4 linked regions of the Homo sapiens genome follow. The protein of the gene in region 4 interacts with the protein of the main gene of each other region in a pairwise test. Each region holds a gene or a part of one and is shown on either strand. Other genes may lie near its edges.

What was found. The genes of interacting proteins can lie anywhere in the genome.
Region 1: the proteins of DNAJC5 (region 4) and KHDC4 come close enough for resonance energy transfer, tested with the Homo sapiens proteins (one large-scale study listed by BioGRID).
Region 2: the proteins of DNAJC5 (region 4) and SLC17A8 come close enough for resonance energy transfer, tested with the Homo sapiens proteins (one large-scale study listed by BioGRID).
Region 3: the proteins of DNAJC5 (region 4) and SCAMP1 come close enough for resonance energy transfer, tested with the Homo sapiens proteins (one study listed by BioGRID).

What each region holds. Positions count from the first base shown.
Region 1 is NC_000001.11:155,920,914-155,924,413, forward strand, and holds part of KHDC4 (KH homology domain-containing protein 4), read right to left. Parts: intron 2,775-3,500; coding exon 2,714-2,774; intron 1,006-2,713; coding exon 948-1,005; intron 716-947; coding exon 462-715; intron 1-461.
Region 2 is NC_000012.12:100,355,792-100,359,873, reverse strand, and holds the start of SLC17A8 (vesicular glutamate transporter 3), read right to left. Parts: upstream 2,801-4,082; 5' UTR 2,483-2,800; coding exon 2,382-2,482; intron 1-2,381. UniProt on the Homo sapiens protein: Multifunctional transporter that transports L-glutamate as well as multiple ions such as chloride, sodium and phosphate.
Region 3 is NC_000005.10:78,363,617-78,367,116, reverse strand, and holds part of SCAMP1 (secretory carrier-associated membrane protein 1), read right to left. Parts: intron 1-3,500. UniProt on the Homo sapiens protein: Functions in post-Golgi recycling pathways. Acts as a recycling carrier to the cell surface.
Region 4 is NC_000020.11:63,900,807-63,905,733, reverse strand, and holds part of DNAJC5 (dnaJ homolog subfamily C member 5), read right to left. Parts: intron 1-4,927. UniProt on the Homo sapiens protein: Acts as a general chaperone in regulated exocytosis. Acts as a co-chaperone for the SNARE protein SNAP-25. Involved in the calcium-mediated control of a late stage of exocytosis. May have an important role in presynaptic function.

The DNA of each region.
Region 1 (3,500 bases), on a different chromosome or scaffold from region 4:
GCAAACAATGGCCAAGGGTATGGCAAACTATGACTGTGGCCTGCCACCTGTTTTGTAAATAAAGTTCTACTGGAGTACAACAGCTATGCTTATTCATTGAGGTATTATCCACGGGCTGCTTCTGCACTACAACCACCGAGTGTGATAGTTGTGACAGAGAATGTATGGCCCTTAAAGCCTAAAATATTTGCCATCTGACCCTTTATAGCAAGTGTGCCCACCATCCCCACTTTAAACAGCTATTTGGTGTGCAAGACTTGTGAAAATATAAACTTCAGGATGACATACACACATACACACTAATCCAAAATATTCAGGTAGGTTGGTGGTAGGAACACAGAAGACAGCAGGAAAAAGACATTCCACATCACATGATTTATTTCTGGAATACCACTACTTCCCCTCTTTCCCCAGTTTTTCCTAAATTCAGTAATATGTTGTTGCATATCCTGACATCCTACCTGTCCAGTGCTAGCTGGAGGCTGCACTTGTGTTATCGGGTATTGTGTTGGCACAGGTGGGACTCCAGTAGGTAATGCCGGCAAGACTCCAGGTGCTAATGAAACAGCTGGTGGCACTATGCTTGGTACTCCGTAGGGAGGTTGAACTGGCTGCTGAGGAGGGGGAACAACAGGGTAACCAGACTGATAGCCATTGGATGGATAATATGGTGGTTGAGGAGGGACACTACTTATAGCAGAGGGTTGTGTATAGCCTGAGGGGGAAGAAAAAAAGTGTTTAATCAGCTGCAGCAGAATGAGACAATTTAGCTGAATATTAAACTTAATATCTAGGGAAGAAAAATACTGAGGCATGAATGGCTTTCCAAATTACCCTAAATTAAAGGGAACATTAATAGTGCCCTGGCACAGTCTAGCCTCAAGTATCATAGTTACACATAACTATCACTAGCAAAATATTTTTTAAACACTTCAAGATGTACACACCTGGTAAAGGTACAGCAGTATTAATCTGATTCACAAATCTAGAGTATTCAGCATGAACCTGAAAGAGAGGGGGAAACAAATTAACATGGGACAGCCGAAGCTGTGCATTTACAAGGGTCTGATTACATAATTCTAGGACCAAAGCCATTAGGAATTAAAATATATCTACCAATGTTCCAATCAAATTTAAACTTGTTTAACCCACATTTTTTTTTTTTTTTGAGACAGTCTTGCTCTGTCACCCAGGCTGGAGTGCAGTGGCGCGATCTTGTATCACTGCAAATCTTTTTTTTTTTTTTTTTTTTGAGACAGTCTCACTCTGTCACCCAGGGTACAATGCAATGGCATGGTCTCAGCTCACTGCAACCTCCACCTTCACGGTTTAAGCGATTCTCCTGCTTCAGCCTCCCAAGTAGCTGGGACTACAGGCGCGTGCCACCGCACCCAGCTAGTTTTTGTATTTTTAGTAGAGACGGGGGTTTCACGATGTTGGCCAGGCTGGTCTCGAACTCCTGACCTCATTATCTGCCCGCCTTGGCCTCCCAAAGGGCTGGGATTACAGGCATGAGCCACCGTGTCCAACCCACCTCAACATTTTAATAAGGCAAATCTATAAATTATTAAGCCAATTTTGGGAATTAGGAGAATAATCCTGAATCCCCTAAACCATACTCAATTCTGGGGTACAGAATCATTTAGAAAGCCACAGAAATTAAGTAACTAGGAAATTTCCAAGTTGTTAGTATAACTGGTGAGACCTCAATTCATTCACATTTACTGGGTGACTTTTCCTCAAGGAGCTCACATTTAGTAAGGGTTTCGTATTTTCCTCATACTTCCTTCCTATATATTATTAAGTCCATAACCTCAAGTACCAACAAAGATGGGAAATAGTCAAGAAAATTATCCGGTACAAGGGTTGGTAAATCAGGTGCTATGTACAAAAGTAAAAAAACAAACAAAAAAACCAACCATGAGCTACCCAATAAGGCACCAGAGAACACAAGGTTGAACATATTCAGTGCAAAACCTGATTTCCTCTAAGTGCTATAAAGACAGTCCTGGCCGGGCGCGGTGGCTCACGCCTGTAATCCCAGCACTTTGGGAGGCCGAGGCAGGCGGATCACGAGGTCAGGAGATCGAGACCATCCCGGCTAAAACGGTGAAACCCCGTCTCTACTAAAAATACAAAAAAGTAGCCGGGCGTAGTGGCGGGCGCCTGTAGTCCCAGCTACTTGGGAGGCTGAGGCAGGAGAATGGCGTGAACCCGGGAGGCGGAGCTTGCAGTGAGCCGAGATCCCGCCACTGCACTCCAGCCTGGGCGACAGAAAAAAAAAAAAAAGACAGTCCTAAGGTTTAACTTTTGGTTGTTTATAGAATAAAAAGAATGCATAATCAAATGAGCAATCATCCCCCAAACATGTCTAACTGGTTTTAAATTATTATAGTTCTACCCTTACTTCAGACTGGAGTTATGCTAATACAAGCCAAAGAAAACCAACACAATGACCAGGTGCTAGGAGAGAGGAAAGGCATGGGATGATTTCTCTCTCAAAGACTCCAGAAGGAACCAATTCTGCCAGCACCTTGATTTCAGACTCTGCTTCCTGGACTGTGATAGAATAAATTTGTGTTATTTTAAGCCACCCAACTGCCATAACTTGTTATAGCAGTACTAGGAAACTAAACAGGTGAAAGAAACAGCTAAGACATACTCCAAAATGGCAATTGCTCTTCTGAATGAGTATCAGACAAATACAACTCACTGTTTGCAAAAGATTCTCACAAAGCTTCTTGGCAGCAGCCAGGCCTTCTGGTTTGGGGTGACTGCAAAGAAATAACCAGGAATTCAAAGGAGAGAAAAATAAATAAAAGATGCAGAATTCTGCTTTCATTTTCCATGCTATTTTACATATCTACATTAATACATTCACTGTAGCTCAAATCTAGGCCTCTGAAAATCACAAAACAGAAACACAAAACATAAGTCTTTTAAGATATAACCACTATCATTACCACAAATATTTTATTAGTCTTTCTCTGAGTAATGGTACTTCTCGATATAAAAATGTTTAAAGTTCATAAAATTACTATAAAACGTATTAATATTGACATAGGTTTAAATGAAAATTATTTCAGACTTATCACAGCTCACTTTAAGATTTGCTTTTTTTTGGCCGGGCGTGGTGGTTCACGCCTGTAATCCCAGCACTTTGGGAGACCGAGACAGGCGGATCACGAGGTCAGGAGATCGAGACCATCCTGGCTAACACGGTGAAACCCCATCTCTACTAAAAATACAAAAAATTAGCCGGGCATGTTGGCGGGTGCCTATAGTCCCAGCTACTTGGGACGCTGAGGCAGGAGGCGACAGAATCTTGCTCTGTTGCCCAGGCTGGAGTGCAGTGGCGCGATCTCAGCTCACTGCAAGCTCCACCTCCTGGGTTCACGTCATTCTCCTGCCTCAGCCCCCGAGTTGCTGGCACTACAGGCGCCTGCCACCATGCCTGGCTAATTTTTTTGTTTTATTTTTAGTAGAAACGGGATTTCACT
Region 2 (4,082 bases), on a different chromosome or scaffold from region 4:
TGATTTTTTTACATGGGATTCTGTCAACTGGTTTTACGTGAAAAGCAGTGAAATGAGAGGGAAATGCCCAGTATGTGCCAGGCTCTGGGCAGGGTCATTTACATACAATTACCTTATACACCTGTGATTAATGCCAAACACGTGGCAGAGCTGGTCTTGATAATTCCTCACTAGAACTGAGGATCAACTTGGATCACCGCTCAAGCAATGTCTGTTTTCGTTTCTTCTGCCAATAATTTCTCTCTATAGATCACTGAAAAAAGGGATTTGACCTTGGCTTTATTTTTTCTAAAGCCATTCTACAATTAGGACAACCATGACAATATCTAGCATTTGTTTAGTGCATTCTCTGTCCCTAGTACTGTGCTAGCTGTTTTTCTATTGTTCTGAGGAAACTATTCAAACAGTCCTAGACACATAGCCCAATTTCTGGTTGAGGTCACACAATTTGGAAAATCGCCAATTTTGTTATATCCCTAAGCAAATCAATTTTGTAAACAAAAAGATCTCCATGTAGCTCCTCCAATCAAACATAGCAAAACCGGCTCTTCGATCAATAATTCCTATTGAAAAAAGCAATCAAATTTCACAAAAAGCAATTAAACTTAAGGTTGAAAAGAAAATTCCTAAGTATTTTTATATCAAATATTTTATAAATGAAGGCAGAGTTTGCTGTTTATAATGGTGACTATGGCCCAACGTCATAGGTTTTTAAATTTATTTTATTTTTTTATTTTTTGAGACAGAGTCTGACTCTGTCACCCTAGCTGGAGTGCAGAGACGCAATCTTGGCTCGCTGCAACCTTGAATGTCTGGGCTCAAGCAATACTCCCACTTCTTGGGAAGCTGAGATGACAGGCATGCACCATCATGCTGGCTAATTTTTTGTATTTCTGTAGAGACATGGTCTCTCTATGTTCCCCAGGCTAGTCTCGAACTTCTGGCCTCAAGCGATCCTCCCACTTCCGCCTCCCAAAGTGCTGGGATTACAGGCGTGAGCCACTGCGCCCGGCCTATGGTTTTTATTCTTGACTTTGCCAGATTCCTTTGTCATTACTTGAATAAGCCAATTAAGCTATCGTGCTTATTATGCAAAAATTATTTTTGCGTTTCTAATCAAATGAACGCCAACACAATAAGACGTTACCTGGGGAGTGCTCAACGGAAGGATAAAACACTCTGAAAAAAATGTTATTGTAATTTTTTCTATATTTGGCTGGTTTATGCTGCTGTCACTGAGCTAGGTTTTCATCTAGACATGCTAATTCAGTGTAGGTCTGATTGAAGCTTTTTTGTTTCTAATTACTAAAATAATAAGGTGTCCAACTCTTTTTTCTTATTAGGAAAGTTAATATTAACAGTGATACCATGGAAAATTTAACACTGACAGGAGCATATGTGTTTTAAAACACAAGAAATGGGATGAATCTCAGATTGCCTGGAAATAGTCATTTAAATGAAAAAGTTTTTAAATTTAAGAGATAATAGAAAAGTTAAAAGGACACACCAGATGGCATTTTCACTCACCAGGATTAGAAATAATCATCCAAACAAATAAAAAGTGTATCAAAGTTATTTTTCACATTTATTTATATCAGAGAGATAAAGCAGTCATTTTACCTTGCACATAAGGACCACTTATGAAATCATTTATATAATTTGAGAAGGCATTTACTATGTCTATAAAAATTCATAAATTAAACTGTCACATTAATTCAATCATTTATAGCAAACTCTCCTTCCATTAATATATTTTACTTTAAAAAATATTTACTTTTTGGTTTGGACTAAAATCTCATTCAATTCAGTGATAGTACTTAACATTTTCCCACTGCAATTATGTGAGATTTTCTGCTTCAAAGACATTTTTTAAGTTACTTCCTTCAAATTAATGTGTAACTATCCTTCTCTTTGCAAACTATACAATCAGGAACCACTTTATGTATTTTATTAAATAAGCTAAAAATTGCAAATATTTAATTTTCATTTATAGTGGATTCAGTGAAAAACATAAAAATTATTTCAGTTCAAGGCATATTTGTCATTACTAATGAGTTAACATAAAATATTATCTCCCTAAATATTTTCTAATTCAATGCCAAACATACCATATGCAATATCATCATCTCCAGAAAGTGCTAATCCAGCTATATAAACAGCATATTTGTCTTGATCTTTTCCTAATACAACCCAATACTATTCATGCATCTGTTTTTCCTCCAGGCATAGACTACTGGAGCTAGAAGGGGCTCCAGAAGGATCTAATCTGACCCATCCTCTCCTCATTAAAGTGTGGTTTTAAAAACGTGATACCAAGTCTCTCACACATTGGCAATACGAAGCTACTCAGAAAGGAACTAAAGTTCGCATTCAAACTTTACCTTTGTAAAATTCCCAAAGAATCTCCCACGGCGTTCTTCACTCCTTCCTTCCCAGGTTTCAGAATTTTTTCTTTGAAGGTATCAAATGCTTTAAAAGGCATTTTGAATGAGGGGCACCTCTGAGCCGTTAACAGTCAGTCTCAAAAACTGTCATCCTTCCTCATTTCCAGTGTGAGAACCACCTTGTTTCCCTTGGTGAACACCTGGAAGTCAGTTCTCGTGGAGGGAACTACTCAAAATCAAAAAGGAGATGAAACCCAGCTCGGATCTTCCAAGATAAGACAACTCCCTCCTCTCTCTGCTCCCCACCCCTCCAAAAAAGAGTCCAAGGGGTGTCTGGCTGGGAATTCAGTCCCTTGCAAAAGCTGCACGCTCTGCAGCAGCCTGTGGCAGCTGTCTCAGGCAGCCACTCTCAGACTGAGCGCAGCCTCTCTCCCTCCCTGGGCTGCAGCTGGGGACGCTAACATGAGCTCCGGACCACCAGGAGTCCTGAGACCAGCAGCAGTATCCGTGGCCTAGCTCCAGCCCCTCCAGCCAGCCGCGTCCCCCTCCTGCCCCACCCCAGCTCGCCTGCCGCTCTCACCAAGTGAGACTTTCCAAGGTGATGCTATAGTAACCGGCACAATACCTGCCCCTCAGCCGCCTGGGCTTATGAATGGGCTCTCAGCCAGAGCAGGCACCCAGAGAGAAATTTATGAAACATTTACAGCCCTTTGCTTTTCTGAGGTCTGGCCCTGCAGACAGGCTCACAGCCACCACTCCATGCCTTTTATTCCCCTCATGAGAGTCATGAAGCCGTTTTTCAGCCAGCCACTAGCATGGATGTGGTCCCACGAGGAACTTGCATTTGAGTAGCCCAAATGCAAAACCCAGGCCACATACATCCAGGAGGACATTTATTTGCTCCTAATCAACAGAGCAGGCTCTCTCAAAGTATGATACGTAGATGCCATTTGGGACCATCTAATTGAAGATTTCTGAGCCGGAAGATATCTAGAACCTGCTTAGAACTCTCCACTGACTCCTCATTGTCCTCAGGATAAATAAAATTATTTTTGTTTTTTCCCCTTTTCTCCCTCTAGATGGACTTTTTTTTTTTTACTTTAAGTTCCAGGATACATGTGCAGAACATGCAGGTTTGTTACATAGGTATACATGTGCCATGGTGGTTTGCTGCACCTATCAACCCATCATCTAGGTTTTAAGCCCCACATGCATTAGGTATTTGTCCTAATGCTCTCCCTCTCCTTGCCCCCCAACCCCTGACCAGCTCCGGTGTGTGATGTTCCCCTCTCTGTATCCATGTATTCTAATCATTCTACTACAAAGACACATCCACACGTATGTTTATTGCAGCACTATTTACAATACAATTCTTTATCATGGCACACAAGGCCTTTCCCTGGGACCCTAAGTCTTTCTTCTTGTCACTCTGCTTTCCACATCCTCATTTCACTGAACTCAGCAAGCTCCCTATTGCCTCTGGGCTTTACTCAAGCTATGCCCTCTGCCTGGGTAACTCTCTGCACCCCTTCAACTGGGTAACTTCTAGGGGTTCTAAGGTCATGCTAAGATATCAATCCTCTAGAAAACTGCATGGGCAAGGTGAGATGTCCCTCCTCTGTGCCTCCAAATCACCTGTCCTCTGCCCTAGCAGAGCCTGGCAGGGAGTGGGCGTTACCTAAATACTTGTTGAACTGG
Region 3 (3,500 bases), on a different chromosome or scaffold from region 4:
AGTTGACATGAACGTAAAATAACACAGGCCCACAAACTGCAACCACTATGTTCCAGATTAATGTTAAAAGACAGTTTTCAAAATGTGACAATCACAAAGGAAATCCTCAGAATACTTTCCTAGTGCTATCCAATCTCCAAACTCAAAATTTTATATCTTTTTTTTGTTTGTTTTTTGGGTTTTTTTTTTTTTTTTTGAGACAGGGTCTCACTCTGTCACCCTCCCGCCTCAGCCTCCCAAGTAGCTTAGATTACAGGTGTGCACCACCACACCCAGCTAACTTTTAAATTTTAGTAGAGATGGAAGTCTCACTATGTTGCCCAGGCTGGTCTCAAACTCTTGGGTTCAAGCAATCCTCCTGCCTTGGCTTCCCAAAGCACTGGGATTACAAGCATGAGCTATCAAGCTCAGCCTCAAAATTTTAAACAGATAAGGGAGGAGTGAAATCAACTTGTAAGTATCATTGTCAAGGTAAATGAAATAAGATGGATAACATTCTTGATGTTACAAAATGAAAACTAAGGTCTGAACGTTTGTTTCCTTAAAAATCACATGCTGAAACCTATCACCAACGTGATGGTATCAGAAGGTGAAGACTTTGTGAGGTGACTAGGTCAGCAGGGCTCTGCTCTCAAGAATGGGATTAATATCCCTATTAAAAAAAGGACCCAGAGGCCAAGTGTGGTGGCATACACCTGTAATCCCAGCACTCTGGAAGGCTGAGGCAGGTGGATCACTTGAGGCCAAGAGTTCAAGGCCAGCCTGGCCAACATAGTGAAACTCCGTCTCTACTAAAAATACAAAAATTAGCTGGGCATGGTGGCATGCACCTATAATCCCAGCTACTCGGGAGGCTGAGGTAGGGGAATCGCTTGAACCCAGGAGATGGAGGTTGCAGTGAGCCGAGATGGCACCCCTGCACTCCAGCCTGGGCGACAGAGCAAGACTCCGTCTCAAAAAAAAAAAAGAAAAGAAAAGAAAAGGGCCCCAAAGAGCTGCCATCCCCTTCTGCCATGTGAGGACACAAAGAAGATGCCATCAATGAGGAAAAGGACTCACCATACACTGAATCTGCTGGGACCTTGATCTTGGACTTCCTAGCCTCCAGAGTTCTGGGCAATAAATTTCTGTTGTTTATAAATTACCCACTGTGAGGTACTATACTTTGTTACAGCAGCCCAAACAGACTAAGACAAATGAATAACACACTTGAATTATGGGTCATTTTCAATTTTAAATTTCAACTCTTACAATGCCACCAGATTACTGTAACTTAAAAGATAACATAAGTGAGAATGCTGAATTTTAGGCCATTTCTAAAAAAAATTTCAATAGACTAAAATTAATTTTTGAGGCCAAAACAAAATGGACACTATGCTCAATTTTAACATGGAGATATTTTATTAGGGAGGAACTACGTGTTGTGAAAAAGCACCAGAATTCAGACAACCTTGGTCTAGTCTAGCAGGTTGATGTAGGCAAAGCACTTAATTATTTTTAGCTTTGATTCCTTGACTATGATCAGTCAAACAGCTACTACCAGCACTCCAGAAGATCCAAAAGTAACATAAATTTCACTAAATTCATAGCTAAGCATATAGAGATTATTAAACAGAACTTTTTTTTTTTTTTTTTTTTTTTTTTGAGATGAGTCTCGCACTGTCGCCCAGGCTGGAGTGCAGTGGTGCCATCTCAGCTCACTGCAACCTCCACCTCCCAGGTTCAAGCAATTCTCCTGCCTCAGCCTCCCAAGTAGCTGGGATTACAGGTGCCCGCCACCACGCCAAGCTAATTTTTTGTGTTTTTGGTAGAGACGGGGTTTCACCATGTTGGCCAGGCTGGTCTCGAACTCCTGACCTCGTGATTCGCCCGCCTCAGCCTCCCAAAGTGCTGGGATTACAGGCGTGAGCCACTGCGCCTGGCCATTAAACAGAATTTCTTAAATTACTATTAATACTAAATATTAGTACCTAATTAAAACCACTATACATTAAGCTCTTACTATATGCTAAATGTATGTTCATCTAATCCTATTTACAATCCTATAGAGAATGTACTATTACCCTATTTTACAAAATAGTAAACTGAGTCTTTCTTTTTTAATACTTCTAGGGTACATGTGCACAACGTACAGGTTACATATGTATACATGTGCCATGTTGGTGTGCTGCACCCATTAACTCGTCATTTACATTAGGTATATCTCCTATCCTTCTCCCCTCCCCCCACCCCATGACAGACCCCGGTGTGTGATGTTCCCCACCCTGTGTCCAAGTGTTCTCATTATTCAATTCCCACCTATGAGTGAGAACACGCGATGAGTAAACTGAGTCTGAAAGAGGTTAAGTAACTTTCCAAGGTCTCACAACCAGTTAGTGTCAAAGCCAGGATCAAGCCCAGATCTTTTCAAATTCTTGAGCCAAAATTTTTTAATCCTATCCTCTGCTGCCTCCCCTCAACTCTAACCTCCAAATACAAAACAAGAATTTTGGTATCAAAATGCAACCAGGGAGCACATACAGTGTCACCAGTAATGGACTAGAAATCAGGAGACCTAAGTTCTAATGCCAATTCTACACTACCTACACATGGGCACAAGACAATGAGCAAGTGTGCCTCTGTGGGCTTTGTTTTTTAATCTATGAGATCTGACTGAATATATTTTAAGAATTTGCCCCCCCAGCTGTGAAATTCTAATTCTCTTCATATTTTAAAAATTAATTTAAATGTTATTTCCATAATGAACTATCTTATTCAATCAATTATCATGTTAATATGCAAAAGCATAAAGCATGAAAATTTTCTGACCACTTACTAATTTCTTCCTTTTATGAACAAACTGCACTTGTTCCGGCACTTAACCATACACTCTTATGCTGACTTGTAAGAGCCTATATTGCTGACCTCTGCTGGTTATTAAACTCTCCCCTTTCATTCATTTTCCAAGCATATTTGTCTCACTGTTAGACTAATAGCCATAAGGACAGAGACACTTCTTCAGTATTTGTTGAATGAATAAACTCAACAGAAAACAAAGGACATACAGCAATTCTTCAATAATTACATGTTGACTATACAGAAAATATTTTTCCCTCTATAGCTTTAAAACCCCATTTTAACAGCTCAAGAGTGGATCCTCAGAAACTTCTATATAATTAATCACCTATTTTCTTTTCGATCACTACAGATTTCCAGTTATTCCAAGTTTCTTGATGCGCAATGAAAGCCATTCAAATTTCATAAAACCATTCACTAAGCCTAGGAAAACCACTAGAATATAAAGCAGGGGCTCAACAAAAAAAAATGAACTGAATCCAGCAAATAGCCTTACAAGAACCAATAAAATCAAGTAAACCACTATGGTTATATTATATAAGGAGAATAGACTCAAACTACTTTCATGATACGGCACAAACGAAGATGCTTGCAGAAGTATTCCTAACATAAAAGTGAAGGAAAAGAAATGCTAAAAAATGAAAAAGGCAATGGAAAACAAATAG
Region 4 (4,927 bases):
GCTGGGCAGGGTGGCACGCCCCTATAATCCCAGCTACTCGGGAGGCTGAGGCAGGAGAATTGCTTGAACCCAGGAGGCGGAGGTTGCAGTGAGAGCTGAGATCACATCATTGCACTCCAGCCTGGGTGACAAGAGCCAGACTCCGTGAAAAAAAAAAAAAAAAAATCTGCCATGTGCGGTCATGTGTGGTGGCTCACACCTGTAACCTGAGGTGGGAGGATCACTCGAGCCCAGAGGTGAAGGCTGCAGTGACTGCACCACTGTAAACCAGCCTGGGCAAGAGTGTGAGACCTTGTCTCTTAAAACAAAAAAATCCAGCCCCGGGTGTGGTGGCTCACACCTGCAATCCCAGTACTTTGGAAGGCTGAGGTGGGTCAATCACTTGAGGTCAGGAGGTCGAGATCGGCCTGGCCAACATGGTGAAACCCCATCTCTAGTAAAAATACAAAAATTAGCCGGGCATGGTGGTGCACACCTGCAGTTCCAGCTACTCAGGAGGCTGAGGCAGGAGAGTCACTTGAACCCGGGAAGCAGAGGTTGCAGTGAGCCGAGATCGTGCCATGGCACTCCAGCCTGGGCGACAAGAGCGAGACCCCATCACATACACAAAAGACAGGAAAAAAAAAAAAAAGCCAGGCACGGTGGCTCACCCTATAATCCTGACACTTTGGGAGGCCGAGGCAGGCGGATCACCTGATGTCAGGAGTTCGAGACCAGCCTGGCCAACATGGTGAAACCCCCGTCTAGACTAAAAATACAAAAATTAGCCGGGCGTGGTGGCGGGCACCTGTAATCCCAGCTACTCTGGAGGCTGAGGCAGGAGAATCGCTTGAACCCGAGAGGCAGAGGTTGCAGTGAGCCGAGATCGCGCCGTTGCACTCCAGCCTGGGGTACAACAGCGAGACTTTGTCTCAAGAAAAACAAAAACAAACAAAAAAACCCCCACAGTTTATTAATCTGCCTTATTGTCCTTTGCCTTTTAAAAATATAAGATAAGCCTGTTTAAGGCTTTACTGGGAGGCAGCTGTCAGTCAGCCAGCTGTTCTGGAGTCAGTCCAGGGCAAAGGCTGCTGTAGGAACAGCATTAGCACAACTTTGCCTATTTATCCTTAACCAGAGCAGGTTTACAAGGATGCCTATACCATGAACACCTGCACGCATCTCAGTCCGCCCACCTGGAGGTCAGACACACTAAGAGGCAGCTGGACCAGCTCCCTGTTCAAGGCCACTTCAGATTCTATGTGAGTTACAGTGCCCTTGTCTTAAAGTATTTTCATAAATGTGAATTAAGCAGTGCTCACACCAGGGAGAAGGATGCTGTGAGTCTGTCTGTTGGTCTGCTGGTGACAATCAGTTAGGGTTACCCAACCTGGCGGGATGATGCAAGAGAAAACAGCACCAACAGAAACCACATCGTAAGAGGTAATTTTGGGGAAAAAAGGGTAATTTTGTAAATCCTGTGTTGTCACTTTAACATGTATGATGACATTATTTGTGCTTATTCTTCAATATTATACCTTTATACTCGAGAATCTAAAAAACTGTTTAAGACCCACCCTGCATGGCTGTCCTGGGGATTACGGCTAATGCATATTCGGCAACCTTGTCCCAGAACACCTGTTCAACAAACCACGGTTTGCCTCATTTCAGAGTGTTTTGCTATTTGGACACGGGGTATTCTTTTTCATCCCCCACTGCAACCTCCGCTTCCCAGGCTCCAGGGATCCTCCCACCTCAGCCTGACCTCAGCCTCTCGAGTAGCTGGGACCACAGGCATGCACCACCACGCCCAGCTAACTTTTGTATTTTCTGCAGAGATGGGGTTTCCTCATGTTACCCAGGCTGGTCTCAAATTCCTGAACTCGAGAGATCTATCCACCTCAGCCTCCCAAAGTGTTGGGGTTACAGGTGTCAGCCACTGCACCTGCCCAAATTTTTGTATTTTTAGTAGAGACGTGGTTTCGCCATGTTGGCCAGGCTAGTCTCAAACTCCTGGCCTCATGTAATCTGCTTGCCTTGGCCTCCCAAAGCACTGGGATTACAGGCTTAAACCACTAAGCCTGGCCAAAAATGTTTTTAATTTTTTAAAAATTTCTATACGAAGAGCCTTATTAAAAGTTTGAGATGGGCCGAGCGCAGTGGCTCACACCTGTAATCCCAGCACTTTGGGAGGCCAAGGTGCGCAGACCATGAGGTCAAGAGATCGAGATCATCCTGGCCAACATGGTGAAACCCCGTCTCTACTAAAAAATACAAAAATCAGCCGGGCGTAGTGGCGCATGCCTGTAGTCCCAGCTGCTACAGAGGCTGAGGCAGGAGAATCGCTTGAACCCAGGAGGCGGAGGTTGCAGTGTGCCAAGATCGCACCACTGCTCTCCAGTCTGGTGACAGAGACTCCATCTCAAAAAAGAGAGTTTGAGGTGAGTCAGTGAGGTGGTGCGTGCCTACAATCTCAGTTACTGAGGGTTAGGGTGATTCTAATCTACTGAGACTGTAGGCATGCACCACCTTGGGAGGCTGAGGCAGGAGGATCGAGCCCAGGAAGGCCAACCTGGGCAACATGTGGAGGCCCCATCTCTACAAAAATTAAAACATTAGTCAACTGTGGTGACACATACCTAAAGTCCCAGCTACTTGGGAGGCTGAGATAGGAGGATTGCTTGGGCCTGGGAGAATGCAGTGAGCTAAGACTGTGTCACTCCTCTCTAACTTGGGTGAGAGACAGAGTGACACCCTGTTGTAAAAAAAACAGGATGTGGCAGGGCGCGGTGGCTCACGCCTCTAATCCCAGCACTTTGGGAGGCCGAGGTGGGCAGATCACGAGGTCAGGAGATCGAGACCATCCTGGCTAACACGATGAAATCCCGTCTCTACTAAAAATACAAAAAACATTAGCTGGGCGTGGCGGCGGGTGCCTGTAGTCCCAGCTACTCGGGAGGCTGAGGCAGGAGAATGGCATGAACCCAGGTGGCAGAGCTTGCAGTGAGCCGAGACTGAGTCACTGCACTCCAGCCTGGGCGACAGAGCAAGACTCTGTCTCAAAAAAAAAAAAAAAAAACAAGATGAGGCCAGGTGCGTTGGCTCACGCCTGTAATCCCAGCACTTTGGGAGGCCGAGGTGAGTGGATCACCTGAGGTTGGGAGGTCGAGACCAGCCTGACCAACATGGAGAAACCCCATCTCTACTAAAAATACAAAATTAGCTGGGTGTGGTGGCACACGCCTGTAATCCCAGCTACTCAGGAGGCTGAGGCTGGAGAATCACTTGAACCCAGAAGGCAGAGGTTGCGGTGAGCCAAGATCACACCGTTGCACTCCACCAGCCTGGGAAACAAGAGTGAAACTCCGTCTCAAAAAAAAAAAAAAAAAAAAAAAAGATGAGGCCAGGAGCAGTGGCTCACGCCTGTAATCCCAGCACTTTCGGAGGCCGAGCTGGGCGGATCACAAGGTCAGGAGATCGAGACCATCCTGGCTAACACGGTGAAACCCCATCTCTACTAAAAATACGAAAAATTAGCCGGGCGTGGTGGCGGGCGCCTGTAGTCCCAGCTACTCGGGAGGCTGAGGCAGGGGAATGGCGTGAACCCGGGAGGCGGAGCTTGCAGTGAGCCGAGATCGCGTCACTGCACTCCAGCCTGGGCGACAGCACAAGACTCTGTCCCCCACCCAAAAAAAAAAAGCATTATTATTTTAAAGAACACATCAAGAAAGAACTAACAAAATTTATTGCGACTGGCAAAAATGTAAAATCTCAGATTTTAACAGCTAGTCCTATCGCAGCAGCTAAAAGAACACCAAAGTGCTGTGGTAAAAGGCCCCGCAAGCAAAGGGGAAAGACAGACACCATCTGAGGGCTACGAACTTGGCAAGAGATGACAGAAGCTACAGTCTGTACTCCTGGACCCAGAATTTCCTTCGTTATTTGTCTTAGGGAAACCTTCTTACAATAAAACACAATCCTATTTAATAAAGAAAAATCCGATGGGACTGCTCAGCAAAGATCCAAACATTCGCTCTGCTGCTAATCCCTCCCAATAACAGGAGGAGCAAAATAAAAGCCAGGCAGGGCCGCACACTCCACACACTCCCTCTGCTGAGCTGCAGTCACTCCTCCCGTCAGGCACCTGCAGCCTCGTCCGGGGTAGAGGCCTCTGGCCTGGGCTCGCCTCCACTCTGAGACTGATGTGGAGCGCGCGGACGCAGCCTCTGGCACCTGAATTCAGCTCCTGCTTCTTCAAGGGTCAAGAGTAAGACGGGATATTTTCGTTCTGCAGTTTCACTAGAACACATTTCCACCCTACCTGGTGAAAAAATAGAGGCACAGGGCAGGGAGAGCTCTCCCCGAAGTCAGCCGCGCTCTAGAGACAGCAAGGAGGGCAGGGCACAGCCGATGGGGCTGGGAAGTCGATTCCATCTTCCGACCTGCCAGCATCATGATTTCATAACAGGCACAGAATGCCTCAGAACGCAGATTGAGCACAGTGGCTCATGCCTGTAAACCCAGCACCTTGGGAGGCCAAGGTGGGTTGATTACTTGAGTTCAGGAGTTTGAGACCAGCCTGGACAACATGGTGAAACCCCATCTCTACTAAAAATACAAAAATTAGCTGGGCGTGGTGGCACACGCCTGTAATTCCAGTTACTCAAGAGGCTGAGGCAGAAGAATCACTTGAACCCGGGAGGTGGAAGCGGCAGTGAGACACGATCGTGCCACTGCACTCCAGCCTGGATGACAGAGCGAGACTCCGTCTCAAACAAACAAAGAATCCCTGGACACAGCAATGCAGACACTACATGGCTCTGGACACTTCACCTCGTAAATGATTATTTCTGCTGGTGATACATGTTCAATGTAGAATATTTAAAGGGACAATACAATTATAAACCCATGAAAAATAAGATTCATTCACATCCATATTCAAGGAATC